2 separate regions of the Homo sapiens genome follow, and region 2 is linked to region 1. The links come from fine-mapping of genetic effects on plasma protein levels. A gene starts in region 1. The other region holds a variant in brackets. All regions are shown on one strand. Distances are from middle to middle.

Region 1 (9,542 bases):
GTGTGTGTGTAGGGGTGTGTGTGTGTGGCAGGGTGGGGGTGGGAGGGGAGTTGTCTGCTGCAGTGTGAGGCTTCTTGGAGCTCCTCTCAGGGACCATCCACCTGCCCCTGTCTGGACCTCTCCCTCCCCTGTGAAACCAAACCAAGCCAGTCCATAGCGTCAGACATTTCCTGTCCCTACATCTCCCACCAGGTATGGGTAAATACTTAGGCAGTGGCTTCCAAATCCCAGGCTGCATGAGAATCCTCTGGGGAACTTATTAAAATGCAGATTCCACTAGATGCGGTGGCTCATGCCTGTAATCCCAGCACTTTGGAAGGCCGAGGAGGGAGGATGGCTTGAGCCCAGGAGTTCAAGACCAGCCTAGGCAATATAATGAGCTCTCATCTCTACAAAAAATTTAAAAATTAGCTGAGGGTGGTAGCACATGCCTGTCACTCCCAGCTACTCGGAGGCTGAGGTAAAAGGATCATTTGAACCCAGGAGGCAGAGGTTGCAGTAAGCTGAGATTGTGCCACTGCACTCGAGCCTGGTCAATAGAGCAAGATCTTGTCTCAAGAGAAATTAAAAAATAATAATAAAATGTACATTCCAGGGTCCCATCAAATAACCATTCTGGCAGCGGGTTTGGGGGATCTGCATTGTAAAAAATTCCCTGGGGGACTCTGCCATGTGAGGCTTCTTGCAAGCTGTAGGGGTCCTCTGCAAGCTGTAGGGGTCTACAGAGATCTTCACAAAGACCCTGCCCTCTGGATCCCTCCCCTGGACAAGATCTGGAAAGATCCTGGGGTCCAGTCCAGCTGCCTGTTTCTAACCTACAGGTATCCTCAGCAAGATCTTGCCACCTTTCTGAGTGGCTGGTTCCTCTTGGTGGAACCCACTGCTTTACTGGTTCCCTGAGGAGCTAGAAGGGAGAAAGCTTGGGTTACGGCTACAAGAAGGAAGACGCCATGGCCAAGCCTGCCTCAAGGCTGTTCTGGAGGAGGCAGTCCCAGAGCTGCCAGATGCATCTTCATCTTAAACACAGCTTTCCAGCTCTCTGTACAGACTCAGCACCCTTGGGTAAGTCACTGGCCCTCTCTGAGCCTCAGTTTCCTCCTATCTCCAACACCAACCTTGCATGAATGGTCAGCCTGAGTGAGTTAACACTGGCAAGGGCTTGGCAGCACGGGGCACACAGTAGGCATTTCATCAATGCTTGCACCTTTTCCTCCCATCCCTGCTGTGCCCATGGGCAATGAGTTAACATTTTCTGATAAGAAAAAATCAAAATCACTCCTGTTTATTGAGCACCTACTAGGTGCAGACACGGACCATCACCACCCCACCTCCCAGTGCCTGATGCCTCCTTGAGATACATGCTCCCCATTCATTCCTCACACCTCGAAAAAGCCCTCTTCCAAGTACCTTGAGTGGAGGTGGGAGGGAGATGGGAAGCAAAACAGATGTCCTTTCTGACCCATCTGACCGCAGGCTTTCCCTGTGACAAGCTCCAGGGCAGGCAGGTGGAAGGCAGGAGCCCGGCGGCCGGGCTGGGCTCAGATGGAGTTGGAGGGGTGAGCAGCCACCAAGCACTTGGGGTCAATGTGCCCCTCCCCAGGAGCCCCTGCTTCCAGCCCCCACCCCCCACCCCCAGACACAGAGACACCTTCCCGACTGGGCCACATTTCCTGAATCAGCTGAGGACACACGGAGCCCAGGAATAATGAAATGATCAGGCCCCAATCTGCTAAACAGCAATTTCTGAGCTTTTTCAGCACACACAGCTTTTATCAAATTGGTATTCTCCTCCTGAACACAAATAGCTTATTAGACATGACCCACTTATTCGCCGCGTCTCACTATCATTAATAACAGTTTCTTTTTGTGATTAAGTGAGTGGCTCCAAACCCTTCCTGTGGTGGCGGGTGCTTGGCACGGCAGAGGGGCAGCTGTGGGGGCTCCTCGGCAGTCACTACTTGGTGACTTTGAACCTGGCAATGTCGGGGGAAGGCAGCCTGGCCCCTGCAGAGCAGCCTGGCTTCTTTGTTTCTTTAGGGACACAGGGAGACCCAGAGGGGTGGCTCACTTGCCCAGAGCCACACGGGGGTTTCAGGAGAGAAGCCAGGTTCCCCAGCAACTAGGGGTGCCTCCTTCTCATCTAGCCCCTGTCCTGGGCCTTAGCTTGACCTTCCAGGGTGCAGAGGGGAGATTACAGCTGGTTGGGCAGAGCTGTGCCCCCTCAGCTTACCTGGCACCAGGGGACAGGTAGAGACTGTCACACAAAGGGCAGACAGACCCTGCTTTTCTATGGGGGGGAGCCACCTTGGGGCCTTGGGAATAACAGACTGGCACCCAAGTCCCTGGGGTCTGGTGCTCTAGGGACAGAACGACCATAAGCCTCAGAGTCCCATTCCTCATACCCCTCGGGACTGCAAACTCAGGGAAGGCCCTCCATGGAAACCCCTCCTAGTGTAAGTTCCAACTGTGCCAAGGGACTGAGCGGAGCGAGGAGAGGAGGGGTGGAGAGGGAGGAATTCCCAGTTTCCCTAGAATGGGAGGGAATCTGACAGGGAGATGAATGTCCTGGAAAAAAGCGCTGTCTTTGCCTGACAGACCCTGGGGCCTGTCCTGGCTCAGTCACTCTCTTACTGTGTGACCTTGGGCAACTTCCTTCACCTCTCTGAGCCTTGGTTTCCCTATCTGTAAGTTGAGGATCAAAAGAACCCTTTCCTTATTTACCACCGCTCTAGCCAGGTCGGTAGAAATGAGGTGAGGGGCATGAAGGGTATGTAAATGATGCACACAGCAGTTACTACCAAACATGGTGAGGCAGAAGGGGGCGGGGAGTCATGGTTCCCAAAAAGCAGAGACCCTGAGGATGGCTTCGAAGCCCCCCTCTCCACTGGAGCAATCCCACTCATGTGTCATACCCCAGCAAAACCTTCCCTGATTATCTACCCTGCCTTACCCCCACTCACTCCCATCAGAATAAATCATCCAATTATCTGGCCTTTGTGCAAACCTCCCCACAGCCCTGGGCCCACAGTGCCCAGCACTGGGGCTGCAGCCTCCCCAACAAGGCTGTCAGCCTGTCTAGTGAAGGGCTGCATGGAAGAAAGGTCTCCTTTGGTTTCATCTATGCTCGAGCCTCCATCCCAGAGCCAGGCTCACAGGGGTCAGGGGGAGCCCCCACAGCTGCCGGGCTCATACAGTCCAACTCTGCTGCCAACTTGGGCTCCTTCGGGGCTAGCAGGAGCTTCTGACACTCAGCCAGCCAGTGCTGGGAATGCTTGTCTGCTCCCCGGCTTCCACAGCGGCTGGAGTTGAGATTTCCCACATTTCAGTCCTCTAGGGCCGAGGATGAGGATGGGGGTACCCTATGGAAGGATGGCACGGCTTCCTGCCCATCCCCAGAGGCAGACAAAAGCACCCGGCATTCCACTTCCACTCCCACTCCCATGCCTCTGGCTGCAAGCAGCAACCCCAACTACTCCGGTGGCTCTGAGGGGCTTCCACCAGGTGCCACCCGCCCAACTGGGAGGCTGCAGCCCCAGGCGACCAGTTCTCAAGAAACAAGGTCTTCTGCCCCCAAGGACCTTTCCAGTGGTATAGGGCTGGGTGTGGAGAGGAAGAGGACAAGGGCCTCTGTGCGGTTAAACCCAGAAGAGTAAAGGCAGATGGGCAGAGAGGAGTGGGTGAGCAAATTGTGTTCATGTGTGTGTATGTGTGTGCCTGTGTGTGTGTGCGCGCGCGCGCACCAGTGTGTCTGCAGGTGGGCAGGCAAGAGTTGTGGCGAAGCGTGTGCGCCAGCTGGCAGAGTGAGCCCACCGGCGCAGTGCCTGATGTGCGTGTGTAGTGGGCATAAGTGTAAAGGCTTGCAGTGAGGAGGGGGACCTGAGGTGTGTGGAGATGTGCAGGGTAGGAGTTGTGAGTGTGAGAAAGCAGCGACTGTGGCTCTGAGTGTGTCCGCGGCTGTGCATATCGGTGTGGCCATGCAGGTGTGCGTATCCGCGCGAGTGTGTGGGGAGGAGGTTCGGGGGTGCGCCCCGGGTGCCCCCTTCTCTGCAGGGCCAGGGTGCCAGGGCGGGTCCACCGCGCCGGCAGGGGGCGCCCCGGGATGCCCGCCACGACTGGCGCCGGTTCGAGCCCCGGGGCGGCCAAGTTGGAGTGGCGCGGCCCGGGTTGGGGTTTGGTGGGGAAGTCCGCGGGGGCGGCGACCGAACTCACCGTGGCCGGAGACGTGGTTGTCCCAGGGCGCGTGGCCGGCGGGCCGCGTGGCGCCGCCGAGTTGCAGGAAAAGTGCCAGGTAGTGGAGGGCGCCCAGCGCTACGGCGAGCGGGGCCCCCATCGTGCGCTCTCGGGCCGGGGGCGCCGCCGCCTCACATCTGGGCCCCGGAGACCGCAGAACCGGCGCCAGCTGTCCCCTGCCCTGAGCGGCCTGGCTGCCCGGCTCCGGCAGCTGCCCCTCGCCCGCTGTCCCCGGACCCGGCCCAGCTCCCAGCCCTCGCCCGGCTCCGGCCCAGCCCCGGCTTCGGGGAGCGAGCGCACGCCCAGCCGGCCGCCTCCGACTGCGGGACTCTTCCCTTCCGCGGAAGGCCACGCCGCGCCGCCGCCGCACCCTCCTCCCTCCTCCCGCCTCCCTCCTCCCCTCCCTCCTCCCCTCCCTCCTCCCGCTCGGAGCAGGCGGCGGAGGGATCTGCCGCTTGATTTATCATCAAAGTTTTGCCCAGGCTGGGATTTTTAAAGCGGTACCCGCAACTTTCCCCCGCCCGAGTGCGGAGGCGGGGCCGGGATGGGGCGGAGAGAGCCACCCCAGGGACGCGGTTCCCGCAAAGCACGACCCAACGGGCTTCAGCCACAGAAATGCCGTCCAGCGGGGAGAGGGAGAAAAGCCAGGGCACCCGCCGCCAGGCCAGCGCACTCAGAGGCTCCTAACTTTACCGGCAGGGCGGGGCCGGGGTCAGGGGCCAGTGGGGCTGGGGGTGAGGGCGAGGTAGGGTGGGAGCCTGGGCTGAGACCCAGGGGACCTGGTGATAGCTCTGCCGCCGACCTCGGCTCGCTGTGTGATCGCGTCCGGGTGTCTACCCCTCTCTGAACCTCGAAGTCTTCATCTGAGAAATAGGGGTAATAGCTGTCTGCGGGGGTCCTGGTGAGGATTTGCGAAATCGTGCATGCAAAGCGCTTAGCATAATGCTGCCTACGTGGTAGGAGCTCAGTAGTTATTATTGTCGGTGTTCCCCTTTCTGGGACTCAGTTTTCGAGTCTTTGTAATGGGAGAGAGACAGGCCAGTTAGTTGTTGCGGCTCCTGGCTCTTGAAGATACTGGACCTTATGTGGTGGATGGGATCGCCCCCTTCTGGACTGTAGGCTCCTTCCCTAGACCAATGAGCCTTGATGGTGTGTGTGTGCATGAGTGTGTGTGTGCGTGTGCGTGTGCGCGCGCGTATGCGTGGGTGTATGTGTGTGTGAGTGTGGCAGGGGAGGGGGATAGGGCACCATTCCCATTCCCAAGAGCAAGAATCCAACAAAGTCCTCCAGTTCCTTCCCAAGCCGTGTTACTGGGGCTGATGGGACAGACAGGAGGGCGGAACTGTGGTCCCATTTAAAAGATAAGGAAGCGCCTGAAATCAGGTAATTAGCTTCTCTGAGGTCCCACGGCGAGTCGGGCGAGGCCCCTGACTCCTGGGCGGGGTCCCTCCTGCTCTCATCCCTTGCCCTTCCCCAGGCCTCCCTGCTCACACAGCCTGGTCCTCCCGGTTTCAGCACCACGGAGGAGGACAGCGCCAGCCCCCCCCCCGCCCCCCGCCCCCCGCCCCACCCGGGCCCATCCTTTGGGCACCGTGGACAGCGTCTCAACTGGCCCTTTGATGCTAGGGTTCACACCGTGGACAGACCCTCAGACTTTCTTCCCCGTCCCCGTCGAACAGGGTCAACCCCTCCGACAGCCCACTCCCCACTCCAGAACACAGGTGGATCCCGCGTCCAGCCGTGTGTACAGCGCCCAAGTTTGAGAACAAGGTTAGAGACCAAGGAACATAGCCCCTCGCCGTCTTCCCTCTGTCTTAGCGCCCCCCTTCCAGTATTATGGGGGGGGGGTAGCACACCGGATGGGGCCCGTGGTAGCCAGCAACAATCCAGCTCCTTCCAAACTAAGGACACCTCCTCCACGATGTCCCGCACTTACAAGCACTGTGTTCTAGCACCGTCCACAGCCCCCGCGCTCCCTTCAGTACCGAGGACAGGTCCCAAGCGTCGACCGCTTCCCCCACCCCCCGAACCTTCTGGACCACATGCCTTGGAGGAAGGGGCCGTGTTTGCCTGATTCTCTCACTTCTCACTTTCTTCCCACACAGAGGTGGTGTTTAGGTTATCCTGGGCTGGCCAGGCGTCTTGGACTCTATGCACGTGTTTTCTCATTCATTAACTACCCTGAACCCCGCTCCCAGCGAAATGAACTACTGCTTCCATCATAAAGATATGGAAACTGAGAATCCTCCAGATCACATAGCAGCCACCATGTTAGCCAGACTAAAACCCAGGACTCCTTCAACCCCAGCCTGAGGCCTCACCAGGAGACTGTGGTGACAGAACTGGGACTCAAACCCGGGCTTTCTCCTCTTAAACCACAGATTGGAGGGAGCAGACACAGGCAAGGGGACAGGGAGGGAGAGGAGATTAAAGAGGAGTAAACAAGAGATTGCTCAGGCCTGCAGAGGAAGGGGGTCTGGCGGGATGGCAGCACATTGCTGCTGTGCCCCTAGCCCACCGGCTGACCTTCAGAAATCTTTTCTCTTTGAAGCCTGGAACAAGGTCAAGGTTCCTTCAAGGACAGACATCCAGGGATTGTATGCCTTTGAAAATGCTCGTGATCGGCCAGGTGTGGTGGCTCACGCCTGTAATGCCAGCACTTTGAGAGGCCGAGGTGGGCATATCACGAGGTCAGGAGTTCGAGACCAGCCTGACCAACATGGTGAAATCCCATCTCTACTAAAAATACAAAAATTAGCCAGGAGTGGTGGTGGGCACCTGTAATCCCAGCTACTCAGGAGGCTGAGGCAGGAGAATCGCTTGAACCTGGGAGGCGGAGTTTTCAGTGAGCCAAGATCACACCATTGTACTCCAGCCTGGGTGACAGAGTGAGACTTCATCTCAAAAAAAAAAGGAAAAAAGAAGAAAATGCTCATGATATAATGGTTCTGCTAAAAAAACCCTCTGATGGCCTGTTTATGTGAGAAATCCTGACTTCTCTAGTTTGCATTCAGGGTCCCAGACTCACCTCCTGCACATATCCTGTGCTCTCTTGGGCATGCCTTGGCCTCATTACATCTTCAACCTTCCCAGTGCTTCCCCTGTGCTTGTATGCCTTCCCCTCTGTCTAGCTGAGTCCCCAGTTGGGCGAGGTCCAGCCTGAGTCCCCATGGGAAGAAATGCCTGCTGCCTTCTCCCAGTCCCCAAGCCTCTGTTGGCTCATCACTGTATGCCCAGCATGGCCCTAAGAACTTTCATTATTCCCCTTAATCCTCAGAACCACCAGGCCAGGTAGGGTAGGATGGTGTGGTTAGAAGTGTGGGCTCTAGAGCCATATTCTCTGTTTTGAATCCTGCCATTTGGTAGCTGTGTAAACTTAGACAAGTTGCTTAGCCTCCCTGTGCCTCAATTTTCTCGTCTGTAAAACAAGGGTAATAATACCTCCTTCACAGCAGGGTGGTGGGGATTAAATGAGTTGTTACATGGAAAGCACTTAGAACAATGCCAGGCACATGGCAAATACATGATACATGTTGACTAGTGTTCTTGATATCTACAGATGAGGACATAGGTTCAGAAAGGTTAGGTATTTTGCCTAAAGCGACATAGCAAGGCCATGATGTGTTTGATTCCAGAGCCAATCAAACATTTCATATGTTTGATTCCAACCTACCCTCTTGGCACCTTAAGAAACTAAGACCCAGAGAAAGTAATTCACTTTCTCAGAGCCACACAGCCACTCATGACAGAACTGGATCCAGGTCCTTTGTCTCCCAACTCAGAGACCTCCCACTATACTGTACTGTCCCACTTGTATTTCCTGCAGCACCTAAACTACACTTTACAGTTTACAAATCACATTCACACCCATGATCTCCTATAATTCATACAACAACCCCTGAGGCTGCTATTATACCCTTCCTTCTTTTACAGATGGAGAAACAAAGCTCAGAAAGATGATGTAACCTGCACAAAGTTGCACAGTGAGGTAGGGCAGAGGCTGAATGTGAACGGACACATCCCAGCCCATCCTCCTCCCCTGTGTAATTGTGCCTCTTGTCTGCTTCCCAATGCAAGTGTAATCTCTGGGCACCGTGGAAGCCGAGAGCCTAGTGGAGGCAGAAGGTAAGCAAAGACTAGCCCAGGAAACAGTCTCTAGGAATTCACTAGAGTGGGTGACGCCTGTCACTCATTTCATTCTGGGAATGCTGCAGGAGATGGAAAGCCTCCCATCCCTGGAGGCAACTAACATGCCTCTAGTGGTCGTGTGGATGCCATGAGGCAAATATCACTGCTATTTCCATTATATAAATGAGGCTCAGAGGTGAGCATCACGTCAAGTATTTCAATTGGGAAAGATGATATTTTTAAACTTCCCTCTAAGCATGGGATCTTGCACTGCCCCTTACTGCTGAGCCAAGCTCCCTGGAGAGTCTCCATACCCTCCCCTTGACTCAGACAGGCCACCCTCCCTCCCCTCCTTGAGAGGTGTCACTTGAGCACTGTGGCTCTGTCAGTGGTAACAGCTGTAAGATTTGTCCTTTTAATCCAGAATCAATAACAAATTTCATTTAAAAATAAATTAAACCAGGCATTGGAAATCATTCACCACGTGGGCTGGAGCCCTATATAGCACCATCTAAATGGCTTCCTTTTGCTCATCTATCAATGCCAAGAGTGGGGGAAATACCTAGGCTGCCTGATTCATGGAGAAACTACTTAAATGTATCAGCCCCTAACAATGAGCAATGTAAGCCTGGAGTTGCACCTTTTAGCACACCAATAACATGTGGAGTGAGGCTTCATGAGAGCTTATCAGAGCCCCCATGGTCACTGGCTTTGAGAGAGCCCATTTATAAGGGGGAACAATGGCTTTAGTATGTAGCCGCCTAATTTCCAGAATGCATTACTGAGCTCTGAGGAGCAATGGAATTCTATTAAAGTCTTATCTGCCATGGGAGGGTATGAAACCGGTGCGGAACTCCAGGCTTGGCATAGACATGCCCAGAAAGCAGCAGGGCTGACCCTAGGAGGTGGGTGAACAAGCCCAGAGGGAGAGGGGGGAGCAGGAGGGGCCCCGGATGTGTGAAAATATGTGTGTTAATAAGAGCTCCGGTTTCCAGCGATTACGTTTACATCAGTGAATAAAACTTGGCAATAAAACATCGGAGCTGCGTCTCAGACAGCATTTCCTTTTACAGCCTGGTGTATTTCACTCATTATAACAGGAGGCAGGGAGCGCGAGGTGTCCCCATTTCTCCCCCTTTAATTAAATTTTCTAAATTACTGCCCAAGATTTGGATAAAGCGAAA
Region 2 (9,542 bases), 260 kb after region 1:
ACTGTGTCCCCAGTGCCACGCAGGCAGCACAGAATGACAGAAGCTGCTGTAAATGCTTGTTGAGTGGATCAATTAATTAATGACTCCGTATTTTTCAGAACAAACTCATCAAAGTGAATTCCACTTACTACCCTCCAAGACAAGATTTATACAAAATGTGGTCACTTTAAAATGAAACAAGAGATGAGCTATTCCCATTTCTTCAAAGCCCTATTAATATTTCATTAGCTACCAGAAGTAGTTGATATTTGTATCTTTGTGTGTCTCTGTGTATAAGTATGTGTATAGACCGTATCTGCCCACCTAGCATTTCTAAAATATGTTCTTTGGACCAGTGAGTGCTGCAGCATAGGAATAGGGTACTATTGGGGGGAAAAGAGGCAGATTTCATGGCCAGATATGTTTGGAAAGCCCTGGATTTAAGATGTATCCATTGCAGGACTTCTCAGAGCCTTTAAGGGTGGCATTTATTGGGCATTTACTATATTCCAGGCAGTGTGCTAAGCACTTTACATTCATTACCTCATTAGCTTATATTCCTCTAGAATGTAAGCTTCTTGAGGACTGACACCATGTCTGTCTTGTTCACCAGCATATCCCTGGAGACTGACACACTGTATCTACTCAATTAATGAATAAATTAACAAATGAATAAATGGCCCTGTAAAGTACATATTGTTACTATTCCCATTTGATAGAGGAGGGAACTGAGTCTGACTACAGAGCCTGGGCTTTTTAACTCTGTTGCTGCTCGTCTTCACTGTAGTAACATGCCTGGCAGATCTGCGGGACAGAGTTCTTGCCTACAGCATTTCCAAGCCTGATTTGCCTAAAAACCTTTTTCTGAAGAAGTATCTTGCAGAATAGGATCATGAGGAACATACCCTAGGAAATGATCCTCTGGGCTCTGCAAGCTGGGTGAGCAGGCCTCCTTGTCTCTGATTTGTCTCCCTAGATGACAGTGCATACAGACTGCAGGGCAGGAGGGAGGGAGAAGCAGGGTATTTTTCTGCTCCCTCTACTCAGGGCAAGGTCTCCACTAGCTGCATCTCCTCCCTGGTTTCTAGTCTTTGGAAAGGCAGCCTCTCCCTCTGTGGTTCCAACTCCTTCTAGGTAGCCCCAACTCCTGGGCTCTTTCTTGTAACGTTGCTTCCTCTTTTGGCCAGGTACGGAGGCTCACGCCTGTGAGCACTTTGGGAGGCCGAGGTAGGAGGATTGCTTGAGCCCAGGAGTTTGAGACCAGCCTGGGCATATGGAGAAACCCCATCTCTACAAAAAATACAAAAAACTAGCCGGGCGTGGTGGTGCATGCCTGTAGTCCCAGCTGTTCAGGAGGCTGAGGTGAGAGGATCGCTTGAACCTGGAGGTGGAGGCAGCAGTGAACTGTGATCACGCCACTGCACTCCAGCCTGGGTGACATAAGGAGACCTGTCTTGAAAAAAAATCACTCCTGTCTTTGTTCCTCCAGTCTTGGGGTTCTTTCTCTCACAGCATCCCATTTACTTGTGCAGCACCCACTAGTCCAAAGAGGATGCCTTCGTCAAATGGTGAATATGGTCTGTAGCATCTTTTCTGCTATTGATAATCTCCAGCCACTGCACTTTCAACTCTTCCAAACCACTGTCACGATTTTGCTAGATTCATGCTCTCCACTGAGCTGCCTGATGCAACACTGACTAATACAACCACCTAAAACAGTAATAGCAATAATTTCACAAACATTCACTCAGCATCATGAATGTGTTAGCTCATTTGATCCTTGTAACAATCCCATGAGAGGTATTCTAATTGCCATCACCGTACTATGGATGAGTAAACTGAGTCCTTGGGAGGTGAAGTAACCTGTTCCAGGTCATACAGTTCATGAATGGGAAGCTGGGATGTGAGCCAAACACACTGGGTCCAGAGCACTATTCCTACCCCCAACCCCCCAGATAACAGTAATAGACAGTTCCTGGGGGTCAGGAAGATCAAACAGAGCCCTTTGTGCCTTTCAGTTCCTGGAGCACAGTAGAGTTCTAGAGGCCTTTCTCCTTGTCTGGTAGTGAGCTTTTCAGCCCTGGAGGTGTGCAAGAAGGGATTGCAGCACTTCTTCACATGGTATTTAAAGGGAACCTCCTTTCATTTGGTCCCCTTCACTAAACCAAAATGAAAAATATTAAATTTGAAAAAAAAATGGAAGCAAACCTCCTAGCAGTGGTCATCCAGGTGAACCAGATGGTGTTTAAGGCTCCCCAGGCTTCTCTTCCCAGTCCCCTGAAAGATGAAGCCACTTGTAATGTCATCAAGACAGGGTCTTTCGAGATCCTGATGAAATACCACCTCTGCTATGAAGCTGCCCCAGGGGCCCCAGCAGAAAGGAGAATTCCCTTTCTGTCACTCAGCATGGCTTTTTATCTCTGCTGTATAGAGCCAAGCTTGCATTATCAGGTTTGTGTTTGGGTCTTCTATGGCCTGCTGGACTGGAAGCTCAGGGAAGATAGAAACTGACGCCAATGCATAGACCTCCTTCTATAGCCCAATCCAGTACCTTGTATGCTATAGACACTCAATAAGTGAATAAGTGTTGGGTGAATAGATAGACAGATAGATGGAAGGATGAGAAAATTTTAAAAAGGAAGAAAGAAGGAAGGAGAGAGAGAGAAATGGGATAGGTGGATGGGGGAGGAGGGATGAGCAAATATGGATGGATGGATGGACAGATGGATGATGAAAGTATGGATCAATGGGTGGATGAAAAGATGGATAGATAGAAGAATGTATGTATGGATGTATGGATGGATGGAAGGATGGGAAATGCATATAGATGGCTAGACAATAGATTGATTGATAGATGTGAGAAGGTGATGGATAGAATGAGTGGATAGATGGATGGATGGGAAGATGGATAGATGAAAGGATGCATGGATGGATAAATGAAGGGATGCATGGATGGATGGATGGATGGATGGATGGATGGATGGATGGACTGGGTAGATAGTTAGATAAACGTATTTATAGAGACTGTGAGGTGTTGTGCAGTAGACACTCTAGAATTTCTATGTGGGGCCCACAATCTGCCTAGAAGGTGGGCTTGCCACCATATTTGCAGAACACTTTACATAAGATTGAGAAACTAGCTATTGCCCATGTGAATGAAATGAGAAAGAAGTGACAGAGATTATGGAAGCCTAAAACCCCTGCAGCTGCCACTGCAGGTGTGACCATAATCACCTAAAATAGTAAGATTCTGAAAATCTGTGGCCCTAAGAAGATTCAAAGGTTTTAAAGTTCTGTGTCTCTAAAACTTAGACTTGAAGATTCTGTGTCTTTAAGAACTCTATATCTACCAATATGAGCAACATGCTCTGTGCCGGGCATTGTTCTAAGCACTTTAGATACAAAGATTAGTTCCTATAATCCCCACGGCCACCCGTGGTCTAGACACTATTACACTATTACCACCCTCATAATGAGGCACAGAGATGCTGAGGTGTTTGCCTTAGATAACACAGCTAGTAAGTGGCAGAACTGGGATGTCAACCCAATCAGGTTAGGCGGGATCCAGAGTCCCCGCTTTTAACCACCACACAATCCTGCCTCAAGGAATGAAGGATTGTACGCATCTAAGTTTCGAAGATTCAGTGCTCAAGACTTGAAGAGTCTGCAATTCTGAGGCTCTAAGCGTCTCCACACCCAGGACTCTTCAGACGCTGAGGGAGAGAAAAGGAGAGAGAGTCTGGCTGGCTCCTACGAACACCAGCCCTGCTGATGTCAGGCA[C/A]CTGGCTGTCACTCTTCCTGTTAACCTTGGGGAGAAAAACACATTTGTGGCAGATAACAGGCATGAGGGTGTGCCGGCCCTCCACTCACTCCCGGGCCTGATGGATGGGCTACATGGGCCCCCCCGACCTGTGTGTGTACTGTTATCTGCTCAGCCAAGGGAAGCTGTTCATCATGCCGACAGCTTGGCGAGGCACACCTGCTGGGACTGCGTCAACCAGAGCCACCAGCATCCTGGGAGGAAGAAGGGGAGGTGATGGGGGGCAGTAGGGCAGGGGAGACACAGAGAAAAGGGCCAAGGGCTCAGTATCAGTACCAGAGGGTGGCACTAAATTCTGGGTACCATGGATGTGCTGTGTGACCACAGACTAGTCACTTAACCTCTCTGAGCTGTAAAATAAGATTAAGCTTTGCCAGAAACCTGGGGGTTGTACTTTCCTCCTTCTCATGCTCCACATCCAATCACCAGGTTCTGTCCATTCTACCTCCCAGTCTGTCGTGATCCTACCCATTTCTTACCAACAACTCTACCGAAACCACCTTGGTCCAGGCCACCATCATCTCTGCCTGGATGATGCTACAGCCTTCTCCCTGGGTTCCCTCCTTCCTGCCCACTATATTCCATTCTTCACATTTTACAGTTCAGAGAGGTTAAGTGACTAGCCTCTGGTCACACAGCACATTCATGGTACTGCCAGGAACGGAAGTCTGGCATCACGCCCAGAAGTCAGTGCCACGGCAGCCAGAGGATCTCTATTACAAAATGAGATCACATCACTCTCCTGCTTAAAACCCTCTAATAGCTCCCTGTCACACTTAGAAATAAGTCCAAACTCCTTGCCAGAGCCCTGCAAAACCTGGCCTCTCCCGCCCTGTCCATCCTTATGTCACACCTGCCAGCCCCCTTGCGTACCAAGTTTCAACCATGCCACCCATCCCTTTTCCACCTCTTAGCCTTTGCACATGCTGTTCCCTCGGATGCGAACACTCTTCCCCAGCCCTTTGCGTGGCTGGCCAGCTCCCTCTCATCTGCAGCTCTCAGCTCAATTGCCACCCCCTCAGAAAGGTCTTGCCAGCCTGAAGTACTACTCCAGTTCCCAATCTCACTCTGTCACGGCACCCAGTGTATTCCCTTTCTGGGACTGATTGCAACCTGAAATTGTGTTGTTTGTTTCTTTGTGTGTTTATTGTCTGTCTCTCCCACTAGAATGGAAGCTCCAAACGTTATGGGTTGTTGTCTTACTCACTACTGTGTCCCTGAGTGCTTCCTCAGTACAAAACCACACATTCTTTCCACCCCAGGGCCTTTGTGCCAGCTGTCCCTTTGCCTGGAACTCTCTTCTCTGCTTATTTAACGCCTACTCACCCTTCAGATCTATGGCAGGGCATATTTTGCAAAGATAGGCACAACAGCATCTTTTATCTTACGTGTTCTTTATAAAATATGACCTTGAGACTTGTCCTGGGAAGAAGTGGGGCCCGTGTTCCCTTCCCTTGATTTGGGGCAGGCTATGACTTGTTTGTGGCCAATAGGATGCCATGTAAGTGACACTGGGACACTTCTGGAAGGAGGTCAAGGACATTGGCTCTGGAGCCCTAAGCTACATTTAAGCAGCATGACTGTCCTGAGGATGCCATGCTATGAGGAAGCCCAAGCCGGCCTCTGCAGAAAGACCACATGGAGAATCCCTGAGATCACCTACAGAGAAGGAAAGAGATGTCCAGCATCTTCCAGCTGCTCCAGCTCCAGCCATCATCTAACTGAAACCTCATGAGAGACCCTGAGTCAGAGCTGCACAGCAGAGCCCTTCTGAATCCCTGATCCACAGAAACCACAAGCATCAACAAAAATTGTAGTTTTAAGCTACTAGGTTCATTTGTTATACAGCAATAAATAATCAGAACAAGATCTCAGTTCATGTGCCACCTTCCCAGGAAGCCCTCCATAACTAGGAGCACTAGGTCAGGACCCTGTACTTCCATTTTATTTTATTTTATTTTACTTTATTTAGATACAGTGTCCTACTCTGTTTCCCAGGCTGGAGTGCAGTGTCATGATTGCAACTCGCGGCAGCCACCATTCCCCAACTTAAGCGATCCTCCCACCTCAGCCTCCTGAGTAACTGGGACTTCAGGTGTAAACCACATGGCCAGCTAATTTTTTAGTTTTTGTAAAGACGGGATCTCCCCATGTTGCCCACGATGGTCTAGCACTCCTGGGCTCGCACTCCTGGGCTCAAGTGATCCTCCCACCTTCGCCTCCCAAAGTGCTGGAATTACAGGTGTGAGCCATCATGCCTAGCCTACTTTTTCTTTATAACATATAGCACGGTTGGTAATTATGTAGTTATTTATGTGATGGCTGATTTTTGTCTCTCTCTCTCTCACTTAAATATAAGCTCTGGGAAGGGGGAGAATAATCCTTATCTTGTTCACCATTGTATCCCCAACAGTGAATAGTGCCTGGCACATAATAAGTGTTCAGCGAATACCACTGATTCAATAATTTCACTAAGTTACTACAACCACCCTGTAATGCTGGCTGTATTACCTCCATTTTTCAGACAAGGAAACTGAGTGAGATTCAGAGATGTTCTGTTCTTGCTCAAGGCCACACAGCAGAGCAGGATCCTAGCCTGTTTCTCTCTGACTTGAAAGCCAGAGCCCACCTCCTGACAGGTGGAGGGATGGGGTACTAGCCTGAGGTCCTCTAAGTGGTAGCTGAGAAGGGCCACAGGTGTCCTTTTATGTAAACTTCTGTCTTACCCTTGCAGAGAAAGAGGCCCAGAGAGGGGAAGGGACTGGCCCAAGGTCACACAGCTCATCAATGTTCAAGCTGGGACAAGACCCGGGGCCCTACATTCTTTACCCAGAGCTCCTCTCACTGCACCCTCAAACCTGCCTTCAACACCTGCCATGCACGGAGCCCAGGACTAGACTCCAGGAGGGACAGACACAAGAAAATCAATGGTCCCTTTGTGGAGAGAACTCAAATGTCTACATAGTAAAGGGGACAAGCAGAACAATTATTTATGAAAATCAACTGTGTTCCAGACAAGCCTAAAAGACACTTTTCATGACAAGCCTGTAAGATACTCTCACAAGATATCCTTTCACAAGAGGAAGCTGAGGCTCAGAGAGATTCGAGGACTAACCCAAGGTCACCAGACTTATAATTGCCAGCTCAGAATTTGAATCCAGAGTTGTCTGTCTCCAGGATGCCCTCCAGTGTGCCAGGCTGTCTCACCAGAGCTAAGGGAGCCTCGAGGCCATGGAGAATGGGCTGGGCACGGTGGCTCATGCCTGTAGTCCCAGCACCTTGCGAGGCCAAGGCGGGTGGATCACTTGAGCCTAGGAGTTGGAGACCAACCTGGGCAACACGCTGAAACCCAGCTCTACTAAAAACATAAAAATTAGCCAGGCATAGTGTTACGTGCCTGTAGTCCCAGTTACTTGGGAGGCTGAGGTGGGAGAATCACCTGAGCCTAGGAGGTAGAGGTTGCAGTGAGCTGTGATTGCATCACTGCACGCCAGCCTGAGTGATAGAGGCCCCATTTCAAAATAAAATAAAAAAATAAGGACTGGGGGCTGGACACGGTGGCTCACGCCTGTAATCCCAGCACTTTGGGAGGCCGAGACGGGCAGATCACGAGGTCAGGAGATCGAGACCATCCTGGCTGACACGGCGAAACCCCGTCTCTACTAAAAATACAAAAAATTAGCCGGGCGTGGTGATGGGCGCCTGTAGTCCCAGCTACTCGAGAGGCTGAGGCAGGAGAATAGCGTGAACTCGGGAGGCGGAGCTTGCAGTGAGCCAAGATCGCACCACTGCACTCCAGCCTGGGCAACAGAGTGACACTCTGTCTCAAAAAAATAATAAAATAAAATAAAATAAAATAAAATAAAATAAAAATAAGGATTGGGAATTAAGGAAAGCTGCATGGAGAACCCAGCACCAAGGAGCAACCTGAGTTAGTCCCTGAAAGAAGTAGTGTGGTTTCCAAAGACTGAGCTGGGGAGAGCGTGTTCCAGGCAGAGGCAGGGCGTGTGGGCAAAAGTCTAGAGGTGGACAGGGCCAGCAAGTCTGGTGGCCCAAGCTGGAGGCATGCGAGTTGAGGCTTGGAGGGGCGGACTGTGCTGTTCCTGCCCCTCACTGCCTCTGCAGCCCCCAGTCACCTTCCCTGGCAGCCCACCCATCCCCCATCCACCAGAGCAACGAGTGGAAAATGAATGAGTCTGTTTATGAAGCCCATAATGTTGCCAGCAACACAAGGCACTCAGCGGAGCCGCTCGGCGCCTCTAATGGGATATTATTTATGTCATTTTCCTCCTGGCGCTGGAGCCATTACCACCCGGAATGGTGCTCCGTCACCCTCCACTCCCCCAGTGATGTGCCAATGTCATGCTGAAGGATGAGCGCTGCAGTTGTCATGGGCAGCACCTCACTGCCAGCCTCTGGACCTGAGCTTCGGAGAAGTGGCAGGGCAGGGGGGTGACGGGCAGCCCCCTACACCCTGCCAATATGAGGCCACTGGGCGCACGCCCGCCAGTGGGATCTAGCTTCTCTTGGGTTGCCGTTGGTGCCAGCCACCCTGCCAGGTGCTGAGAATCCTCCCATGGCTCCTCATTACCCTGCAGACAGAGCCCCATATTTCCATCTGTCAATAAGCCCTCTGGACTTTGGCCCCTGCCCACCTTCCCAGCCTTAGCTTGGCCTCTTGCGTGTAAGTTCTGTAATCAGACAGGCCTGGTCTCGTGTATCGTCCCAGATTGACTCGATCCACCTGTCCCCTCTTGCTCAATGAAGAGCCCGGCTGCTGTCTTTGGCTCTTCTTCTAGTCCAGCTGCCTCAGTTTCCCCCGGGTGAGGACTAGCCTTCTGCAGACACCCCATCAAGCCTGTCAAGCTGCAGCAGCTGACCCCCTGGGTCCAACTCGATCTGAGGGAGGCTCTTTCCACCACTTTCACATTCAGATAAAGCACCATGCTTAGGGCAGGGGATCAGGCTTCCCTAGTGGCTTCCTGGAGGGGCTGAGTAACAGCACTCCTTGCAGCAAATCAGGAACATTGACAACCATGAACCAGGAAGGAGCCGCAGACAAATGGACTATTCCAAAAATGGGAGGTTCCACATGGCTTGCGTATCTGCCACTCCAAGTGACCCAGCACCCAGTTGCATTGGCTCAAAAAGGTATGTTTCTACGGCCAGCTCAGAAACATAGCTCTTTGTGTTTGCTTCCTATTCTTCTCTATCTGCCACCCTGTCCCCCTTATTCTTGCTGCCTAAGAATTGCACCTGCCATAAAATATGTACACTTTGCTCCAGACTTTGTGTTTTAGGAAACCCAGGCTAAGCCATCTGGTTCAATCCCAACTTCATCACTTATTTGCTGAAAGATCTGAGACCAGTTAATGAACCTCTCTGAGCCTCAGTGTCCTCAGCTATAAAATGGAGGTGATCATCATCCTCACCTCACAAGGTTGTTGGAAGTACTCACTAAAATCAGGAATGCTTCCATTTCCTCCACTTCGACACAACTTCCCTTGCATCAAACACTGGCATGTACTATTTTCTTGGTCAAGAACACTCTCAATAACAATAACCTTGTTCATCCTCATGTTTACCTTACACACCTCCTTCTGGGGAACAGTCCCTCTCCCCAGGATGGGTCAGGGCACCTCTGCTAGACCCCACAATGCCCTCTGCTTCTGCCTTGATTTCACTGAACATTGTACTGTATTTACTCATGTATCTGCCTCTGTCGTTAGACTGAAAACTCCAT

Alleles and levels. Alleles are on the strand shown, and positions count from the first base shown. The strength of an association depends on the size of the effect and on how common the allele is.
For the plasma level of the protein whose gene starts at base 4,554 in region 1, A is the high allele of the variant in region 2 and C is the other (weak association).

The links. A credible set is the group of variants that fine-mapping cannot tell apart. PIP is the posterior inclusion probability: the model's chance that the variant is causal. Protein levels are from antibody-based Olink assays in UK Biobank. Linkage for the fine-mapping came from a reference panel and not from the study's own genotypes, which makes the PIPs less certain.
Region 2: its variant is the best candidate, but not a certain one, in a credible set for the plasma level of the VSTM2L protein (UK Biobank, PIP 0.53).

What each region holds. Positions count from the first base shown.
Region 1 is chr20:37,898,139-37,907,680 of GRCh38, reverse strand. It overlaps VSTM2L (V-set and transmembrane domain containing 2 like), which reads right to left and starts at 4,554. Exons shown (of 4, transcript NM_080607.3): 1 at 4,210-4,554. The coding sequence starts at 4,330. LOC124904896 (a long non-coding RNA gene) reads left to right here. Exons shown (of 3, transcript XR_007067576.1): 2 at 822-1,062; 3 at 8,164-9,400. RefSeq lists an enhancer at 4,291-5,254.
Region 2 is chr20:37,635,713-37,645,254 of GRCh38, reverse strand. No RefSeq gene overlaps it. Among named protein-coding and RNA genes, the nearest start is that of LINC00489, 17 kb to the right of the region's middle. The variant C/A (reference allele first, on the strand shown) is at 3,761.